2 linked regions of the Homo sapiens genome follow. The protein of the gene in region 1 purifies or fractionates together with the protein of each later gene. This does not show direct contact. Each region holds a gene or a part of one and is shown in the gene's direction. Other genes may lie near its edges. The genes, in order: ALDH8A1 and RPUSD2.

Region 1 (15,969 bases):
CTGCCCATACCTTCCCATACATATATTGTTTCCTTTTGTATGTAACTCTAAAAGGAGGTACCCAAGCCATCTGTCCAGCCACAAATCTCCTCTTCTCCAATAAAGCCTCTTCCACTGGGCAGAATCAGGCAGCAGGCAGAGCAACCTGTGGTCCTGGGAACCACCAAAATCTGGGTTTGAGTCCTGATTCTGCCACTTATTAGCTGTGTGACCTATGGCAAATTGCTTGAGTTTCTATGTCTCAGTTTTCTCATCTGTAAAATGGGCATAGCAATACTCATGTTATAGAATTTTGAAAGGACTTAAATAAAAATAATTTGTGTAAAGTATTTAGCATATTCCCTTATATAAAAATTAGTCAATAAATTATAAATATAATTAGTCATTTCAAGTGAAAATGACAATCTGAGGATGTGATTTCACCCAAAATTTCAGACTTTATAAGATATGTCAGAGCTGAGTTAGAAGCTTTAGAGATTCCACATATCTAGATTAATTTTCTTCTTCTACTGTATATATAATATATACATACTATATATACTATATATATATAGTATATATGTATAACATATACATTTTTTTGAGACAGGGTCTTACTCTGTCACCTAGGCTGGAGTGCAGTGGCACAATTACAGCTCACTACAGCTTCTACCTCCTGGGCTCAAGTAATCCTCCCACCTTAGCCTCCTGAGTAGCTGGGACTACAGGCATGCACCACAACGCCCAACTAATTTTTTAAAAAACCTTTGTGTAGAGACAGGGTCTCACTATGTTGACCAGGCTGGTCTCAAACTCCTGGGCTCAAGCGATCCTCCCAACCCAGCCTCCCTAAGTGCTAAGATTACAGGCATGAGCCACCACTCCTGGCCCACAATATTTTTAAAAATTCTAGTTTCTGAAGTGATTGAAAATGTACATATGTTAAAATTCAAATAGCTTCTTTCTAATGATCTGATTACTACATTCAGGATGCATTGGTTGAAATGGAGCGCGTTTCTTTGTTTCTATGGTACCCCTCCTTTGCTGGTCATGTAAACACCTGTGTCATCTACTTTGTGGGTGGCTCAGCACTGGGACATGTTGAATATTCAAAATTAGGGTGGGCCAGGTGCAGTGGCTCACACCTGTAATCCCAGCACTTTGGGAGGCCGAGGCGAGTGGTTCACTTGTATTCAGGAACTCAAGACCGGCCTGGTCAGCATGGTGAAACCCCCTTTCTACTAAAAAATACAAAAATTAGCTGGGCATGGTGGCACATGCCTGTAATCCCAGCTGCTCAGGAGGCTGAGGTGGGAGAATCACTTGAACCCCGGAGGCAGAGGTTGCAGTGAGCCAAAATTGCGCCACTGCCCTCCAGGCTGGGCTACAGAGTGAGAATCCATCTAAAAAACAAAACAAAACAAAACAAAAATGAGGTGTGTGGAGACCTGAGGATTCTGGTTTTGTCCATCCCCCAAGGACTAACAGCTTTAAGGTGACCCTTTCTCCCATTTGCTCCTCAAAGATCGAAGCCGCGGTCAAGGCCGCCAGAGAAGCCTTTCCCAGCTGGTCATCCCGCAGCCCCCAGGAGCGCTCACGGGTCCTGAACCAGGTGGCGGATTTGCTGGAGCAGTCCCTGGAGGAGTTTGCCCAGGCCGAGTCTAAAGACCAAGGTGAGAGTTGCCTCTTAACTGTAACATGGGACTCAGGGCATCTCTGATTATTCATGTTATCCCTCTTGGGGCCATCAGGCCAGCCCATGTGCCTGCTCCTCTGGCAATAGTAGAAGTGGAGAGCAAACCCTCCCCTGCTCCAGGCCTGGGAAGGCCAGGACTTGTGGCTGGCCCAGCCCTGTCTCATTCAGATGGCCAGAGAAAGTCACATGGCTGGATCCAAAAGCTGAGGGGCAAAGAAATATACTCTGTTCATTGGATGAAAGGAAGTGCAAATATATACAGCAAAGGGCATGGATATAGGGAGAGATGAAGAACTAGGGCTGATCATGCAGTCTCCTACTCATTCTAAGCAGAGAATTTCAAAGCAAAGATAATTTGAAAAGCAGTTATGCAGTCAGATTATTTAGGATGTTTTCTGATATGTCAGTCACCATTCCACTCCCGACACATCTCATTTTTTTTTCCCACTCTTTCCCAGAGGTCAGAGTAATGGAGTAAATATTTGTAAATTTTTGCAAGAATATCTGTTAAGATAAGCCAAGAGTTTTAAAAATTACATGTGTGCCATAAACCAATCAAAAATCAGAAAGCAGCCTGAGTCCAAGCCCTTAAAAAGAAAATAGTTCTCTGCTGGTGTTCCTGGCCAGGCTCCCTGCATCGCTAAAGAGAACTCAGTAGCAGTCTAGGTAAGCTTCTGTTTCTCTTTCTGTTCCATCCAGGAGCTAGGACGTGCAGGGCATGTGATGGGCAAGCAGGTGCCACACAGCATCCCGTGCCAGGGCATTCCCAGCCGCTCTTCTGATGACTCTACCATGTGTGGGGAGGTCATGAAATACACATTACATGTGTATAAAAGTGTTTCGTTTTGTGCTGTGCAATTACAACTGTCCTAACACCCGTATTTCAATGCCTTTGTCGCAGGTACAAAGCCTGGTGATTTTGAATTGCAAGAGTTTGTGTGGGTGAAGTGGTAGCATCTGGCAAACTGGTGATGAGAATGATGTGTTCAGTTCACAGAACAAAGATTATTGACTCAATTTTAACCCCCCACCTCAGTTTCCAACCTTATACCTAAATATTGTATGGTTTTATCAAACCATGATCAAGTCTTTGTGAGGTCAAGGAATGCCTGCCCCGGGCTAGAAGGAATCCAGGCTGTTTCAGTGTGAGTTGGGACGCGTGGGCAGTGGAAGCTGATGGATAGAGTGTCCCCATTAGCTGATAGTGCTTTATGTTGTTTGCTTCTTACAGGGAAAACCTTAGCACTGGCAAGAACCATGGACATTCCCCGGTCTGTGCAGAACTTCAGGTTCTTCGCTTCCTCCAGCCTGCACCACACGTCAGAGTGCACGCAGATGGACCACCTGGGCTGCATGCACTACACGGTGCGGGCCCCGGTGGGAGTCGGTGAGTGCTGTTCAGTGAGAGCCCACCTCCCGGTTATGCTTGCAGATGCTCACAACATTCTATGGCATTGTCCTCAAGGAACAGGTTAAAGAAAAGGAAGAGCTGATATTTTTCTTTTCTAAAATCCATTGGCCTCAAAGATCTATTTCTAGTTTATTTTCTTTGTGTCAAATTCCCTGCTTTTCTTTTTAGACAGCGTCTTGCTCTGTCGCCCAGGCTGGAGTGCAGTGGCATGATCTCGGCTCACTGCAACCTCTGCTTCCCGGATTCTAGTGATTCTCTAGTCTCAGCCTCCTGAGTACCTGGGACCACAGGTGCGAGCTACCACACCGGCTAATTTTTGTGTTTTTAGTAGAAACAGGGTTTCACCCATGTTGGCCAGGCTGATCTCAAACTCCTGACCTCAAGTTATCCTCCCGCCTCGGCCTCCCCAAGTGCTGGGATTACAGGCGTGAGCCACCACGCCAGGCCTCATGTTCATGACTTATCTGGAAAATCATAGGGAAAAGAATGATGCTAAGAGTAAATATGTAAATTCACATGCCAGGATTTTTTTTTCTACTTATATTTAAAAAAGGAAAAATCAGGCTGGGCGCAGTGGCTCACGCCTGTAATCCCAGCACTTTGAGAGGCTGAGGCAGAAGGATCATCTGAGGTCAGGAATTCGATCAGCCTGGCCACCATGGTGAAACCCCGTCTCTACTAAAAATACAAAAATTCACCGGGCGCGGTGGCTCATGCCTGTAATACCAGCACTTTGGGAGGCCAAGATTGGCGGATCGCCTGAGGTCAGGAGTTCGAGACCAGCCTGGCCAACATGGCGAAACCCCATCTCTACTAAAAATACAAAAAGTTAGCTGGATGTGGTGGCGGGCACTTGTAATCCCAGCTACTTGGGAGGCTGAGGCAGGGAGAATTGCTTGAACCCAGGAGGCCGAGGTTGCAGTGAGCTGAGATTGTGCCATTGCACTCCAGCCTGGGCGACAAGAGTGAGACTCGGTCTCAAAAAAACAAAACAAAACAAAACAAAAAAACCCAGCCGGGCGTGGTGGCATGCATCTGTAGTCCCAGCTACTTGGGAGGCTGAGGCAGGAGAATCACTTGAACCTGGGAGTCGGAGGTTGCAGTGAGCTGAGATGGTGCCACTGCACTCCAGCCTGGGTGATAGATCGAGACTCTGTCTCAAAAGAAAAAAAAAAGAAAGAACTATTTATGTACATTAAATAAATTAATAAGTGTAGGGCATGTAGTATGGTGCCAGGTGTGTGATAAATAAGCCTCTACTGAGAATTATCTTACTTCATGCATTCCTTTGCCTCTTGACCTTTGGAAGAACGTATAAATAAATGTCTGTGATGACTAAAACCTTCCACCAGATGTCACTGTTTCCTCGGAGAAAAAAATCATCTTTTTAGCTTATTACATTTTATGAATATAAGCTAAAAGGAAAACAATTGGGACATCTCATTGCTTTGGTTACTTGAAACCTTCAGAAATTATGTTTTCAAGGCATTGTGGAAAGCTCTACCTCCTCCTAGGAAGTGTGCTAATATATTTTGCTGCAAAAATATTTTTATCCCCTAAAGAATGGATTTTTCAGTGGGAAATTTAATAATATAAAAGATGCATTTACTTTCATAGCACAGGCTTGAGGGAAGAGTATAAAATAAGGTGAATCAATTTCCTTTCAGAAGGTAGATTTTTATATTTGTTTGTTTTGTGATTGGAAACCTGGATAGGTTCAGAATATTGCATGGAGACACATTCTAGCTGCTGGTTACGTTACTCATCCAGCAAATCTATCTGGTCAGGATACAAGTGACAATCTAGAGAGAATTTTTATTTAAAAATATTCTAAATAGCCAAAATGGATGTCACAGTCCATGCACCAAAGGTTATTGGCTTTACTGATAGGAGGGCCCTCACATGGAACACTCAGAACTCATTGGCCCCTATTTTATGAATAATTATATAAAGCTTGAGATTTTATGTCTCAACCCATGACAGATTTGAAGTAAAGGTAAAGAAACATGTTAGAAGAAATAACAGCCAGACCGTTAAAATAATGGGGAAGGAGACATTTTTGAAAAAGTAAAGCTCAGTCTATAAATCTCAAAATGCGTCACATTCTGGAACTGTTTAGTGACAGGTGACAACTGTTTTTTTATTTTTTATTTTTTTTTGAAGTTCCAGGGTACACGTGCAGGACGTGCAGGTTTGTTACATAGGTAAACGTGTGCCATGGTGGTTTGCTGCACCTATCAACCCATCACCTAGCTATTAAGCCCAGCATGCATTTGCTCTTTATCCTAATGCTCTTCCCCCCGACTCTCCCCTGACAGGGCCTGCTGTGTGTTGTTCCTTTCCCTGTGTCCATGTGTTCTCATTGTTCAGCTCCCACTTATAAGTGAGAACATGCAGGTGTTTGGTTTTCTGTTTCTGTGTTACTTTGCTAAGGATAATGGCTTCCACCTTCATCCATGTGCCTGCAAAGGACATGATCTCGTTCCTTTTTATGGCTGCATTGTATTCCATTGTGTATATGTACCACATATTCTTATCCAATCCATTATTGATGAGCATTTGAGTTGATTCCATGTCTTTGCTATTGCTATTGTGAATAGCAAAGTGCTGCAATGAACATACGCGTGCATGTATCTTTATAATAGAATGATTTATATTTCTTTGGGTATATGATAGGTGACAACTCTTTAGCTCTGGAGTTTATATTGCTGTTGTTCATAATCATGAACTGCCAAGAAATGGGGAAATCATATTGACTTTACTCTGTTTTAAAAGATACAGTTGCTTGGAATATATTTTAGAATTATTTCCCTGAAAGTGGCTACAAATAAGCAAAGCTTGGGAAGAAGTTAGAAGAGTAAGCTAAGTTTTCTGCAGCATGAAGGAGTTTTGCGTTAATAACCCCACTTGGCCAGTCCACCTCAGAGGGGTATGCCGTCACAGGCAGTGCTTCTGCTCTCATCCCTTAGCTGGTCTGATCAGCCCCTGGAATTTGCCACTCTACTTGCTGACCTGGAAGATAGCTCCAGCGATGGCTGCAGGGAACACTGTGATAGCCAAGCCCAGTGAGCTGACTTCAGTGACTGCGTGGATGTTGTGCAAACTCCTGGATAAAGCAGGTAATTAGGTGTTGGGGTTGGGGGGCAGGCACAGAGTTGGAGCAAACCTATAGTTTATAGAAATCTTCCACTCAGCAGCACAATCGATTCCAGTGACATCATGGGCTTTGTCTTTCTGATCCTTGTCTGGGAAATCCCCTCCACCCACAGGGTTCCCTCACCCTGCTTCCTGTCTTCAACACCAGAACGGTGCTACTGCAGGCAAGTTCCACTCCCCAGGGTGGGCGACTGGCAGCACAATAGTGACGCAGACTTAAACAGCCCCATCAAATCAAAGACACCTGCCTGCTCCAGAGAGTCAATTAAAATCTTAAGTTGGGGCCAGGTGTGGTGGTTCACGCCTGTAATCCCAGCACTTTGGGAGGCTGAGGTGGGTGGATCACGAGGTCAGGAGATCGAGACCATCCTGGCTAATACGATGAAACCCCGTCTCTACTAAAAATACAAAAAATTAGCTGGGCGTGGTGGCGGGCGCCTGTAGTCCCAGCTACTTGGGAGACTGAGGCAGGAGAATGGCATGAACCCAGGAGGCGGAGCTTGCAGTGAGCCGAGATTGCACCACTGCACTCCAGCCTGGGCGACAGAGTGAGACTCCGTCTCAAAAAAATAAATTAAAAAATAAAATAATAATAATAATAATAAAATAAAATCTTGAATCACAAGTTAATCCTGATGACAATAAGAATATTGCTAGGTACACCTACAGTTTGCTTGGCTATAGAATACCTAGTAGAAGTAGCCCGATTTCAAGAGATCTAAATATACATCCTTCAGTTTTTCCTGCCTTTGGGACTGCTACTGGAAAGCTAATACAATATGGCCTCTTCCTAGCATATCAAGGTTCACACGTTTGCTCCTTGTTCTTTTTCTGCTAATAGTTTATTGGCCGCATTCAGGATGCGCTCCTGGTTTTGTTCTGGGCTGTAGCTCCGCACAGGCACAGGCTGGCACTGTTTGAAGGCAGCAGGCAGGAGACCCCAGCAGCCCTCCTGTGAGAAGTCCCCTTAATGTGAGGTCTTTTTGCTATGTCACCCCACGGCCAGGGCAGGAGTGCTGGGTGGGGGAGACAGACTCACTGTCTTTCTAGTTGGTCTCCTTGCTGCCTTTCAGCCCATAGAGAGGCACTGCTGGGCTCTCCTGTATCCACAGAATGCCCGGTGGGTAAGAGTCCGTCCCTCTCTCCCGCTTCGGAACACCTTTCTTAGAAGCACAGACATACACATTAACTTCCAGTAAACCCTAGCCAGTTCTTTACTCCACGAGGAAGATGAAGGCTCAAAACTGAGGCTGTTTAGGGAACGGCACTGGGCCTTACGATCCCAGGGTCCTCCAGAGGAATGAGGCCTCCCAGCCTAGGACTCTGATTTGTCATCTATGGAGCTCCCAGGCTTCGAGGTGGAGGGGGTGGGGCGGGGTATATCATTTAAATGTGCCGACCCTTCCCATGTTCCTCCCCTACAAAAGACCTCACAGTCTAATCCCATTCTTTGTAAAATGAGGTCTGTGGTGTCTGCAAAGGCGCGACATACTTCTTCCCTGCCTGGTGACTGCAGGTTCCCCAGAGTGGACTAGGCCTGGGGCTTGCCCTCTACTGGGATTTGGAGGCAGGGGTGGCGTGCAGAGCCGTGTTCCCTTAACCACTCTCTCCTGAGACCAAGAACGTCTGGATAGATGATGAGTTATCTTTCCCAGCCAGTCTGCCCTGAACCTGGCCTGCATGACAGTTTCTGTTTCCATCTCTGCACAGCATTGATTTTATTTCTTGGGAACTAGTAAGCCCATTAAACTAAGACAGCCCTTCTCCTCTTTCCTCCATGGGCTGAAACTTCCTCCCCTGACAAATATAGAGGGGGTCATGTTCACCTTGCTCCTCTCTTGAGCCCTCAGTTTCTCCACTGGGATTGGAAGGAATGCGAACCACATCTGTGTCATCTGCTTTAGAGCAACGTAAGAGAAGCTTTTAGTAGGGGAGGGAAAAGCGAAAATAACTAATTCGTTCTGGATGTTTAAAGAGTTAGCTCCTCTAGTCCTGGGCATTTAAACAGACTTGACAGATAAACTTCCTTTAAAATAAACTCATTTTTAAGATGACACAGTGAATACTTCTGTGGGATTCCTGGAATAGTCATTTCTTCTTGGAAATTTGCCCTCATTCCTGGAGTGCCCACTGACTGCGTTTTCCTGGCCCTTCCCATTAGGTGTGTGTGTGGAGCAGGAGATGTGTGTGTGTAGGTGGGTGTGTGTGTGTGCTCTATTTAAGCCTAAAATTTTTCTTGTTGCCACCCTGCCAAGCCCCTACATTTGAGGGGTTTCCTTCTAGTCTGTTCTCGTCTGTTCCTAACTTGTCTGTTAGCCACCTCCCCTGAGTTTTGCTAAATTGCTATTTGTCAGTTAAACTGCTTTCCTTCTCTTATCACCAGAATCTCTTCAAGGTTAGAGGGCAGACATCTCAAGAAAAATTCCATTAATTTCTGGATAAAATGTCAAAATGGTACTGAGAAATAATGGCCAGCTGACATTAGCATCCAAGCCCAAGGGAATGTAGTCAAAATGATAATACTGTCGTGGGGAAAGCAATCCGCTGCCGCAGTGAGCGCATTTTACTGTGGGGATAAATATGCAGTGCTTCCGCATTCTCTCTCACCCTCAGTTAAAATGCTACTCTGAACATTAGCAGTGATTCCATTCATTTTTTGCCTTCAGGATTGATAAAGCCTAACAGTCCACCCCCTCCTGCCCCACACCCCATCCACCCACATGCATGCCCCATCACTGGTGGAGATGTGGGGCCCTACCCAGGAAACTGTGGGAGACTTGTCCTTGTTTCGTCGCATCACCTACTGAGGGGGATCCTCTCCTTCCACACTTTCCTTTGCCCCAACCCAAAGCTGGGGTGCTCTCACATGGTGCCAGCCACTCCTCTGACAGTGACCTACAATCCAGGACTGACCTAAGCTAGATTTCAACAAATGTGCATGTTGGGTAAAGAGATGCAATGCTTAGAAGTGGTGCTTTGGCCAGGCATGGTGGCTTATGCCTGTAATCCCAGCACTTTGGGAGGCCAAGGTGGGTGGATCACCTGAGGTCAGGAGTTCAAGACCAACCTGGCTAACGTGGTGAAATCCCATCTCTACCAAAATACAAAAACTAGCTGGGGATGATGGCAAGTGCCGGTAATCCCAGCTACTTAGGAGGCTGAGGTGGGAAAATCGCTTGAACCTAGGAGGCGGAGGTTGCAGAGAGCAGAGATTGCGCCTTTGCACTCCAGCCTGGGTGACAGAGCGAGACTCCATCTCAAAAAAAAAAAAAAAAGAAGTGGGGCTCTGCTAGGCACCATCACAACTTGTGGAATCTTCCCACCTGTCTCCTGAGGACTCACTGGGATGGGACCTTCACTGTAGCTTCAAGGTGATTGGGCCAAGGCTGTGGCTGTATGGGAGAATGTTCTGGATGATAATGGATCATCAGTGTGAAATTAGTATTTATATTATTTATAATTTAAAAGTAGATTCTGGAAGAAATGGGTTGTATCCAAAGGAGTATGTTTCTAATGAGGAGAGATTGTCTAACCTGGAGCAAAGGGAAGGAAACCAGAAGCAAGGAAGCAGGTCACAAAGCCGAGATGCTGCAAGATTTCTGCACCTACCGTAGGTCAGGCCTGAGGAAATAGAGGGAATAAACTCTGCTACCTCCAGGCAGACCCTAAGAACTGCCTAGACACAGCGTGATTATACAGATGACTTTCTTTTTGGATATTATAAAGATGATTTTCTTTTTAAAGCTTCCCCATTCATGAACCATTTCTAATTTGAATAACGTACACTAAGCATTCATTCACTCATTCATTTACTTAACAGTCATTAACCTGTCAGCTTTGCTGCTTACTGATTGTTATTCAATCTCACTTTCCCTCAAATTTCTTCCTGGTGAACTAAGTGTAATAAAACTACCTACATCCTAAGGTTGTTGTGAAGACTGAAGTGTGTGAGTCACGGATAGCAGTGATGAGTCCACAGTAAGCACCCTATCTAATGTTTGCATTTACTGGTCTGAGTTCCATGTGCTATCAACTGAAGAATCATAAGGTTCATGCATTTGGAAAGGAGGGTTTTATTTCTTATAAAGGGTTGCAGCCTGCAGGCTAGCCATCTTGCAGGCTGGGAAGCGTAGCCTCTGCCCAAAGCGGAGAACAAGTACTTGGAGGAGGGGCAAAGGGAACAGAAATTTATCCTGAGCAGAGTGGCTGAATATTCACATTCAGTAGGATATGGGAGGAGTCATGAATATTTATGAAAGGGGAAACAGGTGCATGCACAGATGAGCTTAATGCGCTCATAAAACTGTAGGGCCAACTTACAAGTAACACAAACAACCAAAAATGGGTGCCCCAATCTTTTCTATCACAAGACTCTGCTACCCTGTATCTTCATGCATTTATGCATGTGTTTTCTTGTTTTATTATTTCATTTATTTATTTATTTTTGAGATGGAGTCTGGCTGCATTGCCAAGGCTGGAGTGCAGTGGCACCATCTCGGCTCACTGCAACCTCTGCCTCCTGGGTTCAAGAGATTCTCCTGCCTCAGCCTCCTGAGTAGTGTTATATAACAGTGTTATGATGCGTTTATATACATGGTGGACATGAATTCTGGATCACGTGCTCAAAAAATGGCAGCCTTAGCATGTTCCGAGGGTTGAGTTTTTGGCCCTCTGATGTCAAAAGGTGAAGCAGAGGACATGAAAACCCTCACTACGTATCCTCGGGAAGTCAGCCAAAACCAGTCGAGATGGTGATCAGTTTTTAGGAAGGGATGTGTTGTGAGACTGGTGAGCTGTCACATCCAAACTGCAAAGAGGGAGGAAAATTTGGTTGCAGTTTCAGATGGTTAGCTAAAGGCGATAAAGGAATAGATTATCCATTTCTTGTTTTTTAGAGCTGGTTTCTGCTTACACTGAGGAAAGAATTCTGGTTAAAGATTAATAAGGAAGAGTCATACTATGGCGTGTTTGACCTCTCATCCCATAATGGCTGGGAACTCAGTTTTTAAGGTTTCTCTGGGATCGCTTTGGCCAAGAGAGGCTGCATTCAGTCAACTGGGGGAGCTTAGGATTTTATTTTTATTTCTCAATGCCAAACTAGGCTGTGGCACAGAGTAAACAACGGAGAGCAAAGAACAGACACTGTTTCTGCCCTTAGCTAGTGTACCTTCTAGTTGTGTGCAGGCAATGAACAAGTAAGTCCAGAAAACATCATGGATAGGCTGGGCGCGGTGGCTCATGCCTGTAATCCTAGTACTTTGGCAGGCCGAGGTGGGCAGATCACTTGAGGTCAGGAGTTCGAGACCAGCCTGGCCAACATGATGAAATCCCCTCTCTACTAAAAATACAAAATTTAGCCAGGTGTAATGGTGCACGCCTGTAATCCCAGCTACTCGGGAGGCTGAGGCAGGAGAATCTCTTGAACCTGGGAGGCAGAGGTTGCAGTGAGCCGAGATGGTGCCACTGCACTGCAGCCTTGGCAATAGAGCCAGACTCCATCTCAAAAATAAATAAATAAATAAAATAATAAAACAAGAAAACACATGCATAAATGCACGAAGATACAGGGTAGCAGAGTCTTGTGATAGAAAAGATTGGGGCACCCATTTTTGGTTGTTTGTGGTACTTGTAAGTTGGCACTACAGTGTTATGATGCTATTTATAAGCATGGTGGACATGACTTCCAACCTGAAACCCACCCTCCCTGGGGAGTCTTGCCCTGCTTCCCTGGGCCAAGATAGTCAATCTCTTCTTTGCACCTCTGCAGCATGTATACACCTCTCTACTTAATGTTTTCACACAGCATTGTGACTCCTGGACACCAAGATGGAGCAGGGTGCTGCTCCCCTAGTGGGCTTGACCTGCCTGAGACTATCTCTGCATCCTCAACCCCTAAGGCCTAGCCAGTATTATGGAATGAATCACCTAAAATATGTTCCACCCTGCATCTCTCTAGGGCAAAGCATCCAGTGGAATCCCACCTGGTGTTTACTGTGGGCAGAGGTGAATCTGTGGTTTTTGCTTTGCTATTAAACCAGAGGCAGCCATAGAAGTTCCAAGTGTTGTAAAACCCAAGTGCTTCCTCCATCCCTACCCACTCCCATTCAAGCGATTGGACTTTAAAGGAGAATTTCCAAGTAACTTGAACTCTTCAACATACTGAGAATTACTATAACTGATACTGTTTCCTATCCAGGTGTTCCACCAGGTGTGGTCAATATTGTGTTTGGAACCGGGCCCAGGGTGGGTGAGGCCCTGGTGTCCCACCCAGAGGTGCCCCTGATCTCCTTCACCGGGAGCCAGCCCACCGCTGAGCGGATCACCCAGCTGAGCGCTCCCCACTGCAAAAAGCTCTCCCTGGAGCTGGGGGGCAAGAATCCTGCCATCATCTTTGAGGACGCCAACCTGGATGAGTGCATTCCGGCAACCGTCAGGTCCAGCTTTGCCAACCAGGTATGTCCCCGGGGGTTCTTCTCCCTCCCCTCCATGGCCCTGTCAAGCTGGATCTGTTTTATCACAGTGCAATGCCTGGGAGCAAGCCAGTCAATCCAGTGCCATTTCCGAGAAAGCAGGATCAGTACATTGTGTGATTCCCTTAACTCTCTGCTCAATTTTAACATTAATTAGTGGCCTTGCAGAGTCACAGCTTCTGTTCAGCAAACTCCTCTTCTTGAGTTGCACAGCTTTTATCAGGTACCAGCCATGGGTGGAATGATTGATGTTGCTGCTCCAAGCATCTCCATTTCTTTATTCACACAGCTGCCCTGTCTTGTCTTTTATTCTTTTCTTAAACCCTGTCTTTGCTTGTCGTTCAAATGTCCTATTCCCAGTAAACCTTACTCTCATTTCAAAAGTATTCAAAATGCGTTCATCCACTGAGTTCCAAATACCTGAAACTGACTAGAGAAGATTTCTTGGCGTGGATTCATGGATCAGCTTCAGGGCATCGTTGTAGCTCCTGAAATTACATAACAGATGTTTCTCTGTGCTCTGTAGTTTTTGTCAGATTCTTTAAGGCTATGGCATTCCAAAGAGTTAAGAACACTACACCAGATCAACTAAACAGTAGGCTGCAAGAAGATGGAAACGCTGCCTGCTTTTGTGTGGTATTTTCAATGTCAATGCTTAGAATACTGCCCAGGATATAGCAGGTGTACATAAACCCTGGATGATTTTCTTCAAAGGATATTTTTATTTTAACAGAGAGTAAAAACATAGGCCAAAGACTTAGAACTTCATAGAAGGAAACAGCAGTGAAATGAGAGATGTCTATATTGAGCTAACTCAGGTAACATTGAATAGTGCATAAACTTTTGAAACTGCATTGCTTCACTAATAAAATCATGTGAACAATAATGATGTCTTCTAACAGGGTTTTCATGAGTATAGAGTGAAAAATGTTACTTTCAATTATTATCTTCATGATAATCATAAGTGTAATTATTTCTCTCACTGTAACTCTTGAAGTGGCTAGAAATATAATTTCTGGATCAATAGACAATATACTTTTACAATACAACTAATTTAATCATTAAGCAAGTTTCAGGTGAACATTTAAACCAAGTGTTTTCATGGCTTACAGACAACAACAGAGGGACAAATTTTGTGGACTGAGAAACTAAGATGAGAGAAAGGTAAACTCTGTATTAAACAAATTCTGAGGGTCCAGGCATGGTGGCTCACACCTGTAATCCCAGCACTTTGGGAGGCCGAGGTGGGTGGATCACCTGAGGTTAGGAGCGCTCGAGACCAGCCTGGCCAACATGGCAAAACTCCATCTCTACTAAAAATACAAAAATTAGCTGGGCATAGTGGTGGGCGCCTGTAATCTCAGCTACTCGGGAGGCTGAGGCAGGATAATCTCTTAAATCCGGGAGGTGGAGGTTGCAGTGTGCCGAGTTAGCACCAATGCACTCCAGCCTGGGAGATAAGAGCAAGAATCCATCTCAAAAACAAACAAACAAACAAACAAAACAAATTCTGAACATGGAGATAAGAAGTGTAATCTTCTCTCCTACCAGAATTGTGCTACGATTTGAGTTTGCCCAGAGAACCTTCCTTTTGGGGTTGTTTTAAAAAGGAAATAGGGAAAGAGACATACGCCTAACTAATTGGCTAATCCAAGGTCACAAATGGATTTTAGGCAAAATAAATAAAGCAGCTTGATTTAGCTGAGCGATGAATTCCGTGTCGTGCATATTTCTTCCTTAATTGAATGTAATTGGCTTTTTTGAAGCATCTCTGTGTGACCCTGGACATGTACTAATTCAAAACTTTTTCTCCTACCTGTAAACTGGAAAAGCTAACAGGCTACAGAATTATTTATAATGAGGAAAGCACCCTGCGCAGTGTCTGGCTTGACGATAGGCACTCAACGAATGATACTGTCCTTTTCTTAATCTCTCCAAAGTCTTTCTTGTGGGCATCTTGGTATGCTTACCTACGCTTTCTAGGCACAGAGCAACAGGGAACTGGGTAAACCCCTCTAGCCTCTTCGTCATGCTCTCCTTCCCTGATGTCACAGGGCGCTTGCGCAAATGAAACTATCAAGTGTTTAGACATTTCCCAAGCTAGATATGGAGATGATCCTAACAGCGATCCTGGTTGCAAAAAGAATGTGTTATTTCAAAACATTAACAGTTTAATCTGGACAATGTACCTTTGTACAAATACCAAGACAATCAGGAACCTTCTATTTTCTAAGATTGTTGTGAAGTCAGACACAAACATGGTGAAAATATTTATGCATTTCTGTACTTTTCATGCATAAATAATGCTTTGAAAGTCTAGAATGTGGTTACATGCCAACTCTAAGTCTAAACTGTTACATGCTATGTTCAAATGATAGGGTTATTTTTCACTGAGAAATCTGTTATAACCCCTCCCCTGTACACTCAGTATCTCTATTTGATGTCTGTGAGGCATCTGAAACCCAGCGTGTCCAAATCAGAGCTCTCGTTTCCCTCCCTCTCCCTTCCTTGCAATACCAATCCTCTTTCCACCTCGTGTCTGCCCTTCCAGGGAACAACACCACCATCCACTCTGCGGCCTACTCTTGTTCTTGCCCTCTCTTTCCATCGACAGGTCCTGTTGGTTCTGTCTTTAAGGTATATCCTGAATCTCATCACTTCTCCAGTGCATCTGTGCCAACTTCATCACACTTCGGAGGTCCCGTGCCCCTGGAAGAATCTGTTGAACTCAGTGGGTCCTTTTCACTCCTCTGCATCTCCATGGATGCCTCCCTGGTCCCAGCTACCTACACGCATCTGGACTTCTGGAATATTCTCTTAACTCCTCTGCTCTCTTCCCACACTTGTTTCCTTCCATCCTATTTTCCCATGGCTGCCAGAATGGGCATTTTAAAATGTAAATCTGATCATATCGTTCTGATGCTTAAAACCTTCCCTTATTTTTTCATGATACTGAGAATAAAACGTAATCTCTTTATGAACCTATGAGACTGCACGATAGAGCCTTGCTGGCCTCCTGACCTCCTCTCTTACCACACACCTCCTGTCCTTGCCTCCTCTTCCAGCCTCAGCCCCACCCACCTTCTTGCTTTTCCTCATGCACACCAGTTCATTCCTGCTGCAGGTCCTCTGTACTTTGAAGAATTAATTCCCCACCTCCAGATCTTTTCCCGTCTCATGCCTTCACATCAGTCAAGATTCCATGCAAATATCCCCTCTTTGCAAGTGCCCTCCAAGACTCCCTTTCATAAAATAGC
Region 2 (16,108 bases), on another chromosome or scaffold:
TGCAAGCTCTCTTCTGACTCTTCTTTCTGTCTTTCCTCAGAAGCTCCTTCTACCTGAATTGCCTTTCCTTCCTCAAAAAATTATTCCCAGGTTTGTAGCTGATCTTCGACAAAGCATATAACAACACAAATTGGGGAAAGGACATCCTATGTAACAAATGGTTCTGGGAAAACTGGCTAGCCACCTGTAGAAGAATAAAACTAGATCCCTATCTCTCACCTTATACAAAAATCAACTCAAGATGGATATAAGACTTGAAATCTTCAAAATTCTAAAAGAAAACCTAGGAAAAACTCTTCCAGACATTGGCCTAGGCAATTTTTATTTTGAGATGGAGTCTCGCTCTGTTGCCCAGGCTAGAGTGCAGTGGTGCGATTTCAGCTCACTGCAACCTCTGCCTCCTGGGTTCAAGCGATTCTCCTGTCTCAGCCTCCCGAGTAGCTGGGACTATAGGTGTGCGCCACCACGCCCAGCTAATTTGTGTATTTTTATTAGAGACAGGGTTTCACCATGTTGGCCAGGATGGTCTCGATCTCTTGACCTTGTGATCTGCCTGCCTCGGTCTCCCAAAGTGCTGGGATTACAGGCGTGAGCCACCGTGCCCGGCCTAGGCAAAAAATTTATGACTAAGATCCCAAAAGTAAATGCAACAATAACAAAAATAAATAAATCGGATCTAATTAAACTAAAAACTTCCGTACAGCAAAAGAAATAATCAGAGTAAACAGACAACCCATGGAATGGGAGAAAGTATTTGCAAACTATGTATCTAACAAAGGACTAATATCCAGAATCTACAAGGTGCTCAAACAAATCAGAAAGAAAAAAACAATCCCATCAAAAAGTGGGCAAATGACATGAATAGACATTTCTCAATGGGATTTGAGAAGATATACAAATGGCTAACAAACATATGAAAAAATGCTCAAAATCACTAATCATCAGGGAAATGCAAGTCAAAATGGTGAGCTACCACCTCACCCCAGCCAGAATGGCCACTATTAAAAAGTCAAAAGACAATAGATGTTGGCACGGATGTGGTAAAAAGAGAATCCTTATACACTGCTGATGGGAATGTAAATCAGTACAACCTCTATGGAAAACATATGGAGATTTCTCAAAGAACTAAGAGTAAATCTACCATTTGATCCAGCAATCCCACTACGAGGTGTTTACCCAAAGGAAAAGAAGTCGTTATATCAAAAAGATACCTGCACGCATGTTTCATAATTCATAATTGCAAAGATATGGAACCAACCTAAGTGCCCATCGAGCAATGAGTAGATAAAGAAAATATGGAATATATACACCATAGAACACTACTCAGCCATAAGAAATAATAAAATAATGTCTTCTGCAGCAACTTAGATGGAGCTGGAGGCCATTATCCTCTAAGTGAAGTAACTCAGGAATGGAAAACAAAATGCCATACGTTCTCACTTATAAGTGGGAGCTAAGCTATGGGTACACAAAGGTATACAAAGTGGTATATTGGCCGGGCACGGTGGCTCACACCTGTAATCCCAGCACTCTGGGAGGCCGAGGTGGGTGGATCACGAAGTCAGGAGTTCGAGACCACTCTGACCAACATGGTGAAACTCTCTATCTACTGAAAATACAAAAATGAGCCAGGCGTGGTGGTGGGCGACTGTAATCCCAGCTACTCAGGAGGCTGAGGCAGCAGAATTGCTTGAACCCGTGAGGCGGAGGTTGCAGTGAGTCGAGATCGTGCCACTGCATTCCAGCCTGGGCAACAGAATGAGACTCCGTCTCAAAAAAAAAAAACAAAACAACAACCAAAAAAAAAACAAAACACAAAGTGGTATACTGGACTTTGGAGATTCAGAAGTGGGGAGGTTTGGAGAGGGGTGAGGGATAAAAAACTACACATTGGGTACAATGTCCACTACTTGGGTGATGGGTGCACTAAAATCTCAGACTTCACCACTATACAATTAATCCATGTAGCCAAAAACCGCTTGTACACCAAAAGCTATTGAAATAAAAAAATTAGGGCCAAGCGCGGTGGCACACGCCTGTAATCCCAGCACTTCAGGAGGCCAAGGTAAGCCTTATTCCCAGGTTTGGCTTTGTGAAACATGGATGAATCTCATGGTTGTTCCACAATAAAAGGATATTACAATTCTAAAGACTGCCCCTCACCGCCCTAGACTGATATTTCTTTTTCCCCTAGCATGGGACAATTTGAATCTCTTTCCTGTGTTTGGAATCTCTCTAGATACTTATACTATGGCCGCAGGACAGGGTACTGAAAATGTGTTCAGGAAATATTTTTAAAATAAAATGGCTAACAAGAGGCAGAATGAATCTTATGTCAATATGCTCCCATTCTCAACAATCAATCTATTTATGTAAGTTTTTCAAACTCCAGCATCAGAAATCCACATGTAGCCCTGGGGCCATCACATTTTCTTGCAGGATGGCATAAGGTTTAACACTTTTGAGTTATTTGAATATACGGGCAACCAACAGTAGGCAAGAGGGTTCTACAGAATGCCAAGAAATCAAACACAGAATTTAGATGAACTGGGCAGAGGCAGGAAGTGACAAAAACTGTTTTAAGAGCTGTTCGGGTAGTCACGGCGGCTCATGCCTGTAATCCCAGCACTTTGGGATGCCGAGGCAGGTGGATCACCTGAGGTCAGGCATTCGAGACCAGCCTAGCCAACATGGTGAAATGAAACCCCATCTCTACTAAAAATACAAAAAATTAGCCGGGCATTGTGCCAGGCGCCTGTAATCCCAGCTACTCGGTAGGCTGAGGCAGGAAAATCGCTTGAACCCGGGAGGTGGAGGTTGCCATGAGCTAAGATCACGCCACTGCACTCCAGCCTGGGCAACAAGAGTGAAAGTCTCAAAAAATTAAAAATAAAAATAAAAAAAGATCTGTTCAAGGAAAAGGGGGCTGCTTCCCAACAGCCGGCTTGAAACATCCCTTGGAATTATATCTGACAGATACGTGTGACAGGAATAACAACAACACAAAAGAATAGGAAACCAAGTTTGATGTAACAGAACTTCAATATGCTTCCCTAGAGCCGTCAAACTTACCTAGAGATGCTAAATACACTTCTGAATCCTGCAAGGGAGCCCAAGGCTTTACAGCTGGCTGGACAGCAAAGTCAGCCACCTCCCTCTGGCCTTCACCTTCAGGGCAAGAATCCACAAAGGAGTCTGAGAATGCATTGTTGGCACCATCTTCTTGTTCAGGATTTGGCAGACAGGAACAAATTTCAGCCCAGAGATCCTGGCCAGATCTTGTGGCTGTAGAGTCAGCGCTCTCAAACATTTTCATTTGGAATCTGAGCTATAAAACAGAAGCTCAAGTGAGTAAGAACTGGCTTTAAGAATACAGCATAAGGTTGAGCACAGTGGCTCACGACTGTAATCCCAACACTTTGGGAAGCCGAGGCAGTCAGATCATTTGAGGCCAGCAGTTCGAGACCAGCCTGGGAAACATGGCAAAATCCCATCTCTACTAAAAATACAAAAATTAGACAGGTGTGGTGGCACATGCCTGTAGTCCCAGCTACTCCGGAGGCTGAGGTAGGAGGATCACCTTAGCCCAGGAGATAGAGGCTGCAGTGAGTGGTGATCACGCCATTGCACTCCAGCCTGGGTGACATTGCGAGGCCCTGTCTCACAAATAAATAAATAAAATAAAAATAAAAATGGAATTCCTACAAGCCATACACAAAAGGCAGATACTGTGATTCCACTTATATAAGGTACCTGAGTAGTCAAATTCATAGATACAGAAAATAGGATGGTGGGAGCTGGGGGCTGGGAGGTAGAAAGAATGGGGAATTACTGTTTAATGGGTACACAGTTTCAGTTTGGGAAAATGAAAAAGTTCTGGAGGTGGATGGTAGTTATGGTTGCACAACAATGTGAACACCACTGAATCATACACACAAAAATAGTTAAAATGGTCAATTTTATGCTACATATATTTTAACACACACACACACACACACACACACACACAAATCTGTAGGGCATTTCCAGGTTGGACAACCAGCCTGCACTTTTCTCCAAAGATCTCCAAAATGCAACAGTTCTATCTCCAGTCAATTAAATTCTGTTTTTTTTTCTTTCTTTCTTTCTTTTTTTTTTTTGAGACAGAGTCTCGCTCTGTCGCCCAGGCTGGAGTGCAGTGGCGCTAACTTGGCTCACTGCAACCTCCGCCTCCCGGGTTCACGCCATTCTCCTGCCTCAGCCTCCCAAATAGCTGGGACTACAGGCACTCGCCACCACGCCCGGCTAATTTTTTGCATTTTTTAGTAAAGACGGGGTTTCACCGTTTAGCCAGGGTGGTCTCGATCTCCTGATCTTGTGATCCGCCCGCCTCGGCCTCCCAAAGTGCTGGGATTACAGGCGTGAGCCACCGCGCCCGGCCCCTAAATTCTGTTTTCAACAGAACACAGACTAAAGGTCTTTCCACAGTTCCATATACATGAAGATCCTGCTTGGTAAAAAGTGTCTGTCAGAGAGTACTGTTACAATGCAAGGGCTGTGTGCTCAGCGCATGCAGTTCAGCCGTATGTCTCATGCTCTTATTTTAATACAATCACTGAAAGGTAGGTATTTTCACCATTTTACAGATGAAAAAACAAGTTCAGAAGGGTAACTTGCTCTAGGGCACATTACTGATATGTGGGGAATCCTTGACAGGAAAACCAGATCTGTGCTGCTCCAGAATCCATGTTTTTATCAAATACCATCCTGCTTGTTTGGAAAATATAACGAAAGCAGCCCAAGCACGGGCAGGTAGGAAAAGCTACGCAAAGAGCCTGGAGGCTTTTATAACTATCTAGGCATATGAGACAGGCTGACACCTTCTTTCAAGAGGAGACTTAGAAATCAGGAAGGCTGCCTGAGGCAAGGTCTGAATAATGCCAGGAGACAGAGCCCAGCCAGCGTAAAGGCCGGAAGTAAAAGGGACAGCTATGACACGGCGGTCCTGGGTGAACTGATGTCTAGCGCTACAGTGAACCCCCAACCCGAATTCGTCTAAAGCCACCCAAAACCAAAACTTTGCTCACACCAGAGCCCCGCATGGCCCCTTACCCCAGGGCAGGGCGTCCAGAACCACGCAGGAAATTCCGGCGTCCAGATCCCAGGCCTCAGTCGCTCAGGTCTCTAGGGCTGTCTGGACGGGATGAATCAGGTCCCAAGGCCTCTATGTGGTATTCCGGGGCCGGGCCAGAGTGGGAGATCCAAAACGCTGGGCACCCCAGCCCCTCCTCACTTACCGTAACAGCTGCCCAGTAAACGCTTGGCTCAGCTCTGTCGCCTGTAGCCCGGAGGAAATCGGGAGGGGCGGAGTCCCCTAGTGACGGAGCCCAGGAGTCCTCCAACTACCTTCCCACCCGACGATGTTCTGTGCGTCGATTGGTCGAGAGGAGCTCAGCGTGGTGAAGAAGTGAGGAGCAGCAAGAGGCGAGCGGTGGACGGGGCTCTGGTTGCCGGGAAACGGTGGAGTCACGTGCCCTGAGCATTGCCCCTCCCCTCCCGAGGGCCAGGTTGATTCCTTGCAGATCCAGGGTTCCAGTCCCTGCTTGGATAGGGAAGTCGTTTCCAAGACTTTTGACTTTTCCTAGTCGCCGGAGCCAGTTCACCTCCTCCACAACTTTCTCTGTCGGTGTTTGTCTTCTAAAAATTTCACCCCTTCGTTACCCAAATTAGAGCACTTCGGCGGCTTCTTTCCTTACTCTCCCAGGAGACTCGTGTCTCATTCATCAAATTATGAAGCTTTCCTTCATTCATTTAGTCAATAGATACCAAGCACCTGCTGTGTTCTAAGCATTGTGTTAAGCGTGAAGTTAAGACACATATGACTTGATATAAGTCCTGGAGATCCTTACAGCTTAGTAGTGTAGGAAGGGGGTCCGCCATGGAGGCATAAAAGTTTACAAATAACAGTAAACAGTGATAGACAGCCGGGCGCGGTGACTCACGCCTGTAATCCCAGTACTCTAGGAGGCCGAGGCAGGTGGATCACCTGAGGTCAGGAGTTCGAGACCAGCCTGGGTGAAACATGGTGAAACTCTGTCTCTACTAAAAGTACAAAAATTAGCTGAGCATGGTGGCACATGCCTGGAATCCTAGCTATTCGGGAGGCTCAGGCAGGAGAATCGCTTGAACCGGGAAGGCAGAGGTTGCAGTGAGACAAGATCGCACCACTGCATTCCAACCTGGGCAACAGAGCAAGACTGTCTCAAAAAAAAAAAAGGAGGGGGGCGTTGAGGATTATAGAGTATATGATGGAAGTGTGGCCAGAGTACATAAAGGAGAGAGTGGTCATAAGAAGTGTGTGTCAGAATGCTTTGTTGTTGTAGTTGTTAAAGGAGATGACCTTTGATATCCTTCAGGGGATAGATACCAGCTTGTTCATTGAGATCGACCCCTCCCCATCCCCAGCTTCCAGGATCAACACCAGTTACTCTCTCCCAAGAAACACGTGATGAAAGACATCAGCCAACCATCAGTAGCCAAGTAACTTGGCTGAGGAAATAGTTCTCACTCCAGCCTGGGTGACAGAGCAAGACTCCGTCTCAAAAAAAAAAAGAAAGAAAGAAAAAGAAAACAACAACAACAAAAACAACATAGTTTTAGGATTACAGATGTGAGCCACTGCGCCCAGCTAAAATACAATTTAAAATTCAGTTCCTGGCCGGGCTTGGTGGCTCATGCCTGTAATCCCAGAATTTTGGGAGGCTGAGGGGGTGTGGATCACCTGAGATCAGCAGTTCGAGACCAGCCTGGCCAACATGGTGAAACCCTGTTTCTACTAAAAATACAAAAATTAACTGGGCGTGGAGGCGCATGCCTGTAATCCCAGCTACTCAGGAGGCTGAGGTAGGAGAACTACTTGAACCCAGGAGGCGGAGGTTGCGCCACCACATCCGGCCTGTAATCCTAACACTTTGGGAGGCCAAGGTGGATGGATTGTTTGAGCCCAGTTTGAGACCACCCTAGGCAATGTGGCAAAACCTCGTCTCTACTAAAAATACAAAAAATTAGCCAGTCATGGTGGCACATGTCTGTCGTCTCAGCTACTAGGGAGCCTGAGGTGGGAGGATCACTTCAGTTTGGGAAGTCAAGGCTGCAGTGAGCCAAAATCGTGCCACTGCACTCCAGCCTGGGTGATGGGAGTGAGATCTTGTTTCAAAACTTGTTAAAATTTTAATTAATTTAAATTTAATTAGCCACATGTGGCTATTGTACAGCACATGGCTAATGGTGATCCTATTGTATAGCACAGGATTGGAGAATATTACATAGTTCACAGAACCTCAAGGTGAGTGGAGAGTCAGGCTTTAGGTCTATACAGCCAGGGACAGTATCTGAATCTCACTGAGAGACTGCTCAGGGAACACCCCACAGCCACTGAACATCTATAGCTGGCATTATTCGTCGATTGGGTACTTGACACAAGAACCTCCCCGACTGTTGGCCTCCCAGATTAGATGCCTCCAATGCTACCTTGTTAGACACGGATTTCACACTGAGCCTGCTTCCGCGGCTGTGTGCCTCTGAACCAAAGCCTCTGTCTAAGAGATAGAGCCCAGGTCAAATGCCTATGTCCAAGCTGCAAGAGAGTGTGGGAAGGCTCTGGCTTCTACCTTTTGGGGGCAGTAATGAAATGTGAGAAATTCCCCACCCAAAAGAAGGGTGTTCGGAAGATGCTGGATGTTTACAGAATATGACAAATGTCTACTCTACATGGTCTATGCCAGTGCTTCTCAAGCTTTAATATGCAGAAAAATCACCTGAGGATCATGTTAAAGTGCAGATTCTCATTTAGTAGGTCAGAAGGGGAGGAGGAACAAGATTCTGCTATGTTTTCTGTCTCCACAGTTTTGCCAGGCACTAGTCCAAGTATTTTACTTGAATTAACTAATTTAATTCTCCCACCCCAATCCTATGGAGCAAAGAGGCTAGCTAAGAATACATACTTTTCTTTTGGATAAGGTTCTGCTTTCACTGTAAATATCTTAATGAAATGATGCACTTGAGAGATGATGTCCCTCCTGTGAAGTAGTTTGGTTCTAACATACCCCACAATCAATGGAGAATTCTACCTCTTATTTCTGGAGGTAGTCAGGAATCAGACTTTTCAGCATATGGAGTTCTGCAGCTGTGGATACCTCAGCTGCAGTCCCTCAGTTAGTTTGGTGAGACTAATGACTTGAAGAAGGAATTTAGCTAAAAAAGATTTCCCTTTCTCCTCTCCAGAATACAAATGCCTAGGATAAGAATTAGACTGTCTTTTTTTTTTTTTTTTTTTTGGCAAACTAACATTGAAATGCCTCCTTATTTGGAAGAATCCCACTCTGGATACCAAAGAGGGTTAGATTCTTGGCCGGGCGCGGTGGCTTACGCCTGTAATCCCAGCACTCATAATATAAAAATTAGCCAGGCGTGGTGGTGCGTGCCTGTAGTCCCAGCCACTCAGGAGGCTGAGGCAGAAGAATGGCTTGAACTCAGGAGGCGGAGGTTGCAGTGAGGTGAAATCGCTCCACTGCACTCCAGCCTGGGCGACAGAGCAAGACTCCGTCTCAAAAAAAAAAAAAAAAAAAAAAAAAAAGAGGGTTAAATTCTTCCATCTCCAGGCACCCTGGAAGTGAGGGCTCAGAGCAATGAGGTTTGGCTGATGGAAGTCCTCCCCTGCAGGACTCTTAACCTTGGAAGAGGGACACAGAGACACAGGGAGATTTAGGGGTCTCCAAGGGGTGGCAGGGCTGCAGGAAAAAGAGTCCTTTGGCACAACATAGTTTCTTGTGTCTACTGCATCCCAACTGGGTTTCTTCCCTGACATGTCTGAAGCCAGGCTCTCAAAAGGCTTGGTTTCCCTTGATTTGGCCCTTTTTCTGAGCCTAGTCTCCAGTTGTCTTGTGAATTCTATGAGGCACTAATATACTTTCCATAATTCTATCTCTGATGAAATTAGCCAGAGTTGGTTTATTTTGCACTTAAGAACCCTCGCCATATATCCTCTGATCTATTTGCAGTTTTAATCTCAGGATGGAAGCATGTGGGAGGCGAATGGGGATCACTAATCCTTCTCATGCTGTTAGGGGGAAACACAGGTGTGAACACATTGCTTCTGGGGTGCTTGTGTGTGTTTTAAATACATATATAACAATCTTACTGAGATACAAGTCACATACTATAATATTGACCCTTTTAAAATATAGAATACAGTGGGTTTTAGTATATTCGCAGAGTTTAGCAATCTTTATTCTGGTTGTTAGTTTTTGTTTTGTCTTAAATAAAGCTCCTTTCAAGCGTTTCTTCAGACCCAAGGGACTACTCGGAATTTACACGACCTACTCCTGTCATGGCCTTTACACGGAGCAATTCCAAGGGTTTCCTTTATAAATAACGTCGTATCTCCCTAATAGGAAGACGTCTGAGTAAGGTCACTTTTGGTGAGACATTTACAGTCTCTCATCTCTAAGCTCACTCAATTCACCTAATTTAATTCGAGCAGCTCACTCATTCGCTCACTTATCGCAGACCCCGCCTCGGGACTGGGCCTCCCTGATTCGCTGGGGCCGAGTGACGTCCTCAGATCGCGACCCTGGGAGTGGAGTGGGGGCAGCGTGGTTATGTGGCTGGACCGCCGCGGATGGCTCAGGGTTCTTGGACATTGGCGCTACGACCTTAGGCGCCCTAGCTTTACCAGGACTTGGAGTGGCGATAAGGGCCCAATGGCAGAAACAGTGTCTACCCAGGTTGGGACAGAGGGCGGGCTGAGGGCTTCGCATCAGCAAAACGGTGACGCTGGTGGCGACGCGAAGGTTGAGCTGTCCCCCGGGCCCCCGAAGCCGGCTGGCCGGGAAGTGGAGCCGGCCCCAGTAGGCGGGGAGCATCCCTCGGCTGCAGCCCCAGGCCCGGGCAAGCATAAGAAGCGGCGGGGCGCAACCAGGGAGCGTGTCGTGCCGCCCCCGAAGAAGCGGCGGACCGGGGTGAGCTTCGGAGATGAGCACTTTGCAGAAACCAGTTATTACTTCGAGGGCGGCCTGCGTAAGGTGCGGCCCTATTACTTTGACTTCCGGACCTACTGCAAAGGTCGCTGGGTGGGCCACAGCTTGCTGCACGTCTTCAGTACCGAGTTCCGAGCTCAGCCCCTGGCCTACTATGAGGCCGCGGTCCGGGCGGGCCGCCTGCAACTCAACGAGAAGCCGGTGCAGGACCTCAACATCGTGCTCAAGGTGGAGTCCTGATGGGGCTGGCCAGAAGCGGGCGAGGAAAAGGGGCCGGGTTTTGTTTTGTTTTGTTTTGTTTTTTAGTCTTAGTAAAGCATAGGTACTGGATTAAAATCATGGCAATTCTAAAGCGTTCTCGCTTTCATTTGGAACACTATTTTAGCCCGTTTCCCACCTCCGCAAGTGGCCAGGGTGTCTGTGCTTCAGGACTCAGCCTGTTTATCCTCTTCCTCAAGGCAGCTTCCTTGTTTCCAAGGGACAGAAGTTGGAATTTTCATAATTCCTTTAAACACCGTCTTGTGGCAAGGGCACTGATCACTTTACCCTGCGTTGTAGATCTCTGTGCAAATAGTAATAATAGGGGCTATCATTTATGTCTCTTTACTGTGTGCTGGGCACAAAGTTAAACATTGTATGTCCACTAATTCTAATGACAGCCTTGTGAAGTAGGTATTGCCACTCCATTTTACCTCTGAGGAAACTAAGGAAACTCACAGGGGTAAGGCTATCAACAGTGCCACTACCAAAGCCTATGTTCCTATAACTACTACTTAAACTATTTAACATAGAGTTATGAGATGTCAGGGATAGAGACTAGAATTGTTTAGCCCAGTGCTTTGACTCCTTTAAAATTCCATCACATCTATGAGGTACCAGACACCCCTGTCAGAAGTAACACTGTTTACCTCTCAGTAACACTAGTTTACCATGGTTGTGAGTGGAGAAAAGGCGATTACAGCATTTGGGGAATGGATGGTTTTGGAGTAACTTGTTCCATTGATCAATCGATTTGCGTCAATATATCATACATTGACGAATTCCCTCTCCTATCCCAATTTCTAAAGCACAGATCTGGTCTAACCCTCACATTCCACAGGAAGCAGAGACCCAGAAAAGATAAATGACTTGCCCAAGAGCATGTAGCGAGCCTGTGGCAAATCCTGGTCTAGAGCCCATATCCCTGGACTTAAGCCTTAGTTTTGTTTGTTCAAGATCGTAATAAGTGATGATTTATGGAGGTTTTTTCCTCCATTAAAAAAATTTTACCTTGATTATTTATTTTTTTTTTTTTTGAGACAGAGTCTTGCTCTGTTGCCCAGGCTGGCGTGTAGTGGCGCGATCTCGGCTCACTGCAACCTCCGCCTCCCAGGTTCAAGCGATTCTCCTGCCTCAGTCTCCCAAGTAGCTGGGATTACAGGCATGTGCCACCACGCCTGCTAATTTTTGTATTTTTAGTAGAGACAGAGTTTGACCATGTTAGCCAGGATGGTCTTGATCTCGTGATCCACCCACCTCAGCCTCCCAAAGTGCTGGGATTAGAGGCGTGAGCCACTGCGCCCGGCTAAAAAATTTTACCTTTTAAATACCTTTATTGTAGAGAAAATACAATTAGCAAAGCCAAAAAACATTCATAATCTAACCACCCAGAGATAACACAGTTAACATTTTTGCATATGTCCTTCCAGTACTTTTTCAGTGCCAGCTATCTGCCTGTGTCTGTCTGTATTTTTACAAAATGAGATCACACTCTGCACACTGCTTTTTCAGCCCAAGATGTGCTTTCACCATTTTTCCATGTCAGTGAGGAACAGGGGAAGCTGGATATGAAGTTGACTGATTACAGGCTGCGGTCCCTAGGCTGACTTATTACCTATGTCTTTGACAGGACAATGATTTCTTGCGGAACACAGTGCACAGGCATGAGCCACCAGTCACAGCAGAGCCCATTCGCCTGCTAGCTGAGAACGAAGATGTGGTGGTTGTAGACAAGCCTTCCTCCATTCCCGTTCACCCCTGTGGCCGCTTCCGACACAACACAGTTATCTTCATCCTAGGCAAGGAGCACCAACTCAAGGAGCTACACCCCTTGCATCGGCTTGACCGCCTTACCTCAGGGGTGCTTATGTTTGCCAAGACAGCTGCAGTCTCTGAGAGAATTCACGAGCAGGTTCGGGACCGGCAGGTGAGTCAGGCTTTTGTCTCCTACAGGCCACTTCTTGGGCTCACGAATGCTCTGTGTCAAAAGGGCATCATGGAGTTCCGAAGTGGTCCTTCATATTTATCTGGCCATCCTTCCTACCTTCCTACCTTAAGGCAGGTCAACACCTAAAGTGCCAAATGCAGGATATCTCATATGTTTCCAAAAAAATCTTTAGAGATGGCATACACTGCCTCTCTTAGTAGTTTGCTATTTTGAAGCTTTAAAATGCTGACAAGGCCAGGCTCACACCTGTAATCCCAGCATTTTGGGAGGCTGAGGTGGGAGGATAGCTTGAGCCCAGGAGGTAGAGACCAGCCTGGGCAAAATAGGGAGACCCTATCTCTACAAAAAAAAAAAAAAAAGGCCAGGCGCAGTGGCTCACGCCTGTAATCCCAACACTTTGGGAGGCCGAGGCGGGCAGATCACGAGGTCAGGAGATCGAGGTCATCCTGGCTAACACGGTGAAACCCCGTCTCTACTAAAAAAAAATACAAAAAATTAGCTGGGCGTGGTGGCGGGCACCTATAGTCCCAGCTACTCGGGAGGCTGAGGCAGGAGAATGGTGTGAACCCAAGAGGTGGAGCTTGCAGTGAGCCGAATCGCGCCACCGCACTCCAGCCTGGGTGACAGAGTGAGACTCTGTCTCAAAAAAAAAAAAAAAAACTTACCCTGGCATGGTGGCACATGCCTGTAGTCCCAGCTACTTGGGAGGCTGAGATAGGAGGATCACTTGGCCATGGGAGGTTGAGGCTGCAGTGAGCCATGAGCATGTCACTGCGTTCCAGCCTGAGCTATAGAACAAGACTCCGTCTCAAAGAAATAAATTAACATAAGAAAATAAAGTGCTGACAGGCTGAGCAAGGCTTTTAAGATTATGGGGAGAGCCTGCTTGGTGAAAAGATTCTAGATGTAGTTGGAAAAGTCTTGGGTAGAGGAGTTTAATGGTAATGATTGTTGTCCTGAGACTTGTAATTCTGGATCTGAATCATAATACATTTATTGAGTGCATGCTATATACCAGGCTTAGTATCAAGCACATTAGAGCCTAACTTACTGAATGCTTATCACAGCCCAATGAGGTAAATGCTTTTCTTTTCTTTTCTTTTTTTTTTTTTTTTTTTTTGAGATGGAGTTTCGCTCTTGTTGCCCAGTCTGGAGTGCAATGGTGTGATCCTGGCTCACTGCAACCTCCGCCTCCTGGGTTCAAGCAATTATCCTGCCTCAGCCTCCCAGGTAGCTGGGATGACTGGCATGCGCCACCACGCCTGGCTAATTTTGTATTTTTTAGTAGAGACGGGGTTTCTTCATGTTGGTCAGGCTGGTCTCGAACTTTCGACCTCAGGTGATCCACCCACCTCAGCTTCCCAAAGTGCTGGGATTACAGGCGTGAGCCACCTCACCCAGCTGGTAAATGCTTTTCTAATTTCACATTTTCTAGATGAGTTAGTAGGATTTAGAGGTTAAGTAATGTACCCAAGATCGCAAAACTGGCGAATGGTAGAGCTGGAGTTTGAATTTTCTGACACTGGTCCTTATCACTCCACAAAGAGTTTGGACTCCATGAATTTAGGCTTTGTACTGACTTTCTCCCTCTTCCCTCCTATGTAGCTGGAGAAGGAGTACGTGTGCCGGGTGGAAGGGGAGTTCCCCACTGAGGAAGTGACCTGTAAAGAACCCATCTTAGTGGTGTCTTACAAAGTAGGGGTGTGCCGTGTAGATCCCCGGGGCAAGCCCTGTGAGACAGTGTTCCAGAGGCTAAGCTACAATGGCCAGTCCAGTGTGGTACGGTGCCGGCCACTCACAGGCCGCACACACCAGATTCGAGTCCACCTTCAGTTCTTGGGCCATCCCATTCTCAACGACCCCATCTACAACTCAGTTGCCTGGGGTCCTTCTCGAGGCCGGGGCGGCTACATTCCCAAGACAAACGAGGAGTTGCTACGGGACCTGGTAGCAGAGCACCAGGCCAAACAGAGCCTGGATGTGCTAGATCTCTGTGAGGGTGACCTGTCCCCAGGACTCACAGACTCTACGGCCCCCTCCTCAGAGTTGGGCAAGGACGACCTGGAAGAGTTGGCTGCAGCTGCCCAGAAGATGGAGGAAGTAGCTGAGGCAGCCCCTCAGGAGTTGGACACAATAGCCTTGGCATCAGAGAAGGCAGTTGAAACAGATGTCATGAATCAAGAGACAGACCCACTCTGTGCAGAGTGCCGGCTGGTGCGACAGGATCCCTTGCCCCAAGACCTTGTGATGTTCCTACATGCCCTACGCTATAAAGGGCCAGGCTTTGAGTACTTTTCACCAATGCCTGCCTGGGCACAGGATGACTGGCAAAAGGACTGAGGGTGTGGCCAATGGAGGGATTGCTTCTTGGGTTGTGACAAGGATGGGCTATAGGGCAAGGGCTGACCCCATGGGCTAGTACTTGGGGTTTCTATAGGAATGAGGACGGGCTTCTAAAGAGACCTGCTCATACTTGCTACCTCCTTCCAGTGGGAATTTGGAGACTTTTTGGTTTGTAAATATATCCCTTTTTCTAACATCTTTGATGTCTGGTTTTCTTCCGGCTTCTTTTTTATTACTGATGTAAAATTCACATAACATAAAATTAACCACTTTAACTAGCCAGGCACAGTGGCTCATGGCTATAATCCTAGTACTTTGGGAGGTAGAAGTGAAAGGATCACTGGAGGCCAAGAGTTCAAGGTTAAAGTGAACTGTGATTGTGCTGCTGCACTCCAGAGCCTAGGTGACAGAGTGAGACCCTGTCTCTTAAAAAAAAAAAAAATTAACCAATTTAAGATGTACAGCGTAGTCACATTTAGTACATTCACAGTGTTGTACAACCATAACCTCATATATTTCCAAAACATTTTCATCACCCCAAAAGGAAACCTGTACCCATTAAGTAAGTGGTCACTTTCCACTCCCCTTCCACCAGCCTCTGGCAACCACTAATCTACTTTCTGTCTGTTTGGATTTGCCTGTTTATTCTGGACATTTTATATAAATGGAATGATAAAACATGTGACCTATGTCTCTGTTTCCCTTGGCATAATGTTTTCAAGGTTTATTCAACTTGTAGCATGTATCGGTACTTCATTCTTTTTTTATGGCAGAATAAGCTGTTGTATGGATATACCACGATTTGTCTATCTGTTCATCAGTTAATGGACATTTGGGTTGTTTCCACCATTTCATTATTGTGGATAGTGCTGCTGTGAACATTAAATATGTTTTCAGTTCTTTTGGGTATATACCTCACAGTGGAATTGCTGGGTCATATGGTAATTCTATGTTTAAATGTTTGAGAATCCACCAAACTTTTCCACAGCAGCTGAACCATTTTATATTGCCACCAGCAAGCATAGGGTTTCAATTTCTCTACATCTTCACCAACATTTGTTTTGTTTTGATTATAGTCATCCTAGTAGGAGTGAAGTGGCATCTCATTCTGGGTTGTTAGTCTTTTTGTTGTGGAGTGTAAGTGTTCTTTATATATTCTGGATGTGAGAGTCTTAGCAAAAAGACTAACAGCCCAACTTAAAAATGGGCAAAGGATTGGAATAGACATTTTTCCAAAGAAGATATACAAATGACCAGCTAACATATGAAAAAAAAAAAAGCTGAACATTATTAGTTATCAGGGAATGCAAATCAAAACTGTGGCATTAGTATAAGAATAGACATAGAGTGATGGAATAAAATCAAGAGTCAAGAAATAAACCCATCCATCTAAGGTCAATTGGTTTTTGACAAAAGTGCTAAGACTGTTCAGTGGGGAGAGAATAGTCTTAAACAAATGTGTTTTTTCTTAAACAGTTCGTGCTGGGAAAACTGGGTATTCACATAAAAAAGAAAAAAGTTAGACCCCTACCTCATACACAAA

Evidence for each region.
Region 2: the proteins of ALDH8A1 (region 1) and RPUSD2 purify together in Homo sapiens (affinity purification with mass spectrometry; 3 studies listed by BioGRID and IntAct, with this or other methods). This does not show direct contact.

The regions. Positions count from the first base shown.
Region 1 is NC_000006.12:134,929,502-134,945,470, reverse strand, and holds part of ALDH8A1 (2-aminomuconic semialdehyde dehydrogenase), read left to right. Parts: intron 1-1,504; coding exon 1,505-1,652; intron 1,653-2,906; coding exon 2,907-3,062; intron 3,063-6,055; coding exon 6,056-6,205; intron 6,206-12,438; coding exon 12,439-12,695; intron 12,696-15,969. UniProt on the Homo sapiens protein: Catalyzes the NAD-dependent oxidation of 2-aminomuconic semialdehyde of the kynurenine metabolic pathway in L-tryptophan degradation.
Region 2 is NC_000015.10:40,559,700-40,575,807, forward strand, and holds RPUSD2 (pseudouridylate synthase RPUSD2), read left to right. Parts: upstream 1-9,599; 5' UTR 9,600-9,638; coding exon 9,639-10,244; intron 10,245-11,904; coding exon 11,905-12,201; intron 12,202-13,827; coding exon 13,828-14,562; 3' UTR 14,563-15,250; downstream 15,251-16,108. Other genes in the region: CCDC32 (coiled-coil domain-containing protein 32), read right to left, coding at 3,073-3,316. UniProt on the Homo sapiens protein: Pseudouridine synthase that catalyzes pseudouridylation of mRNAs.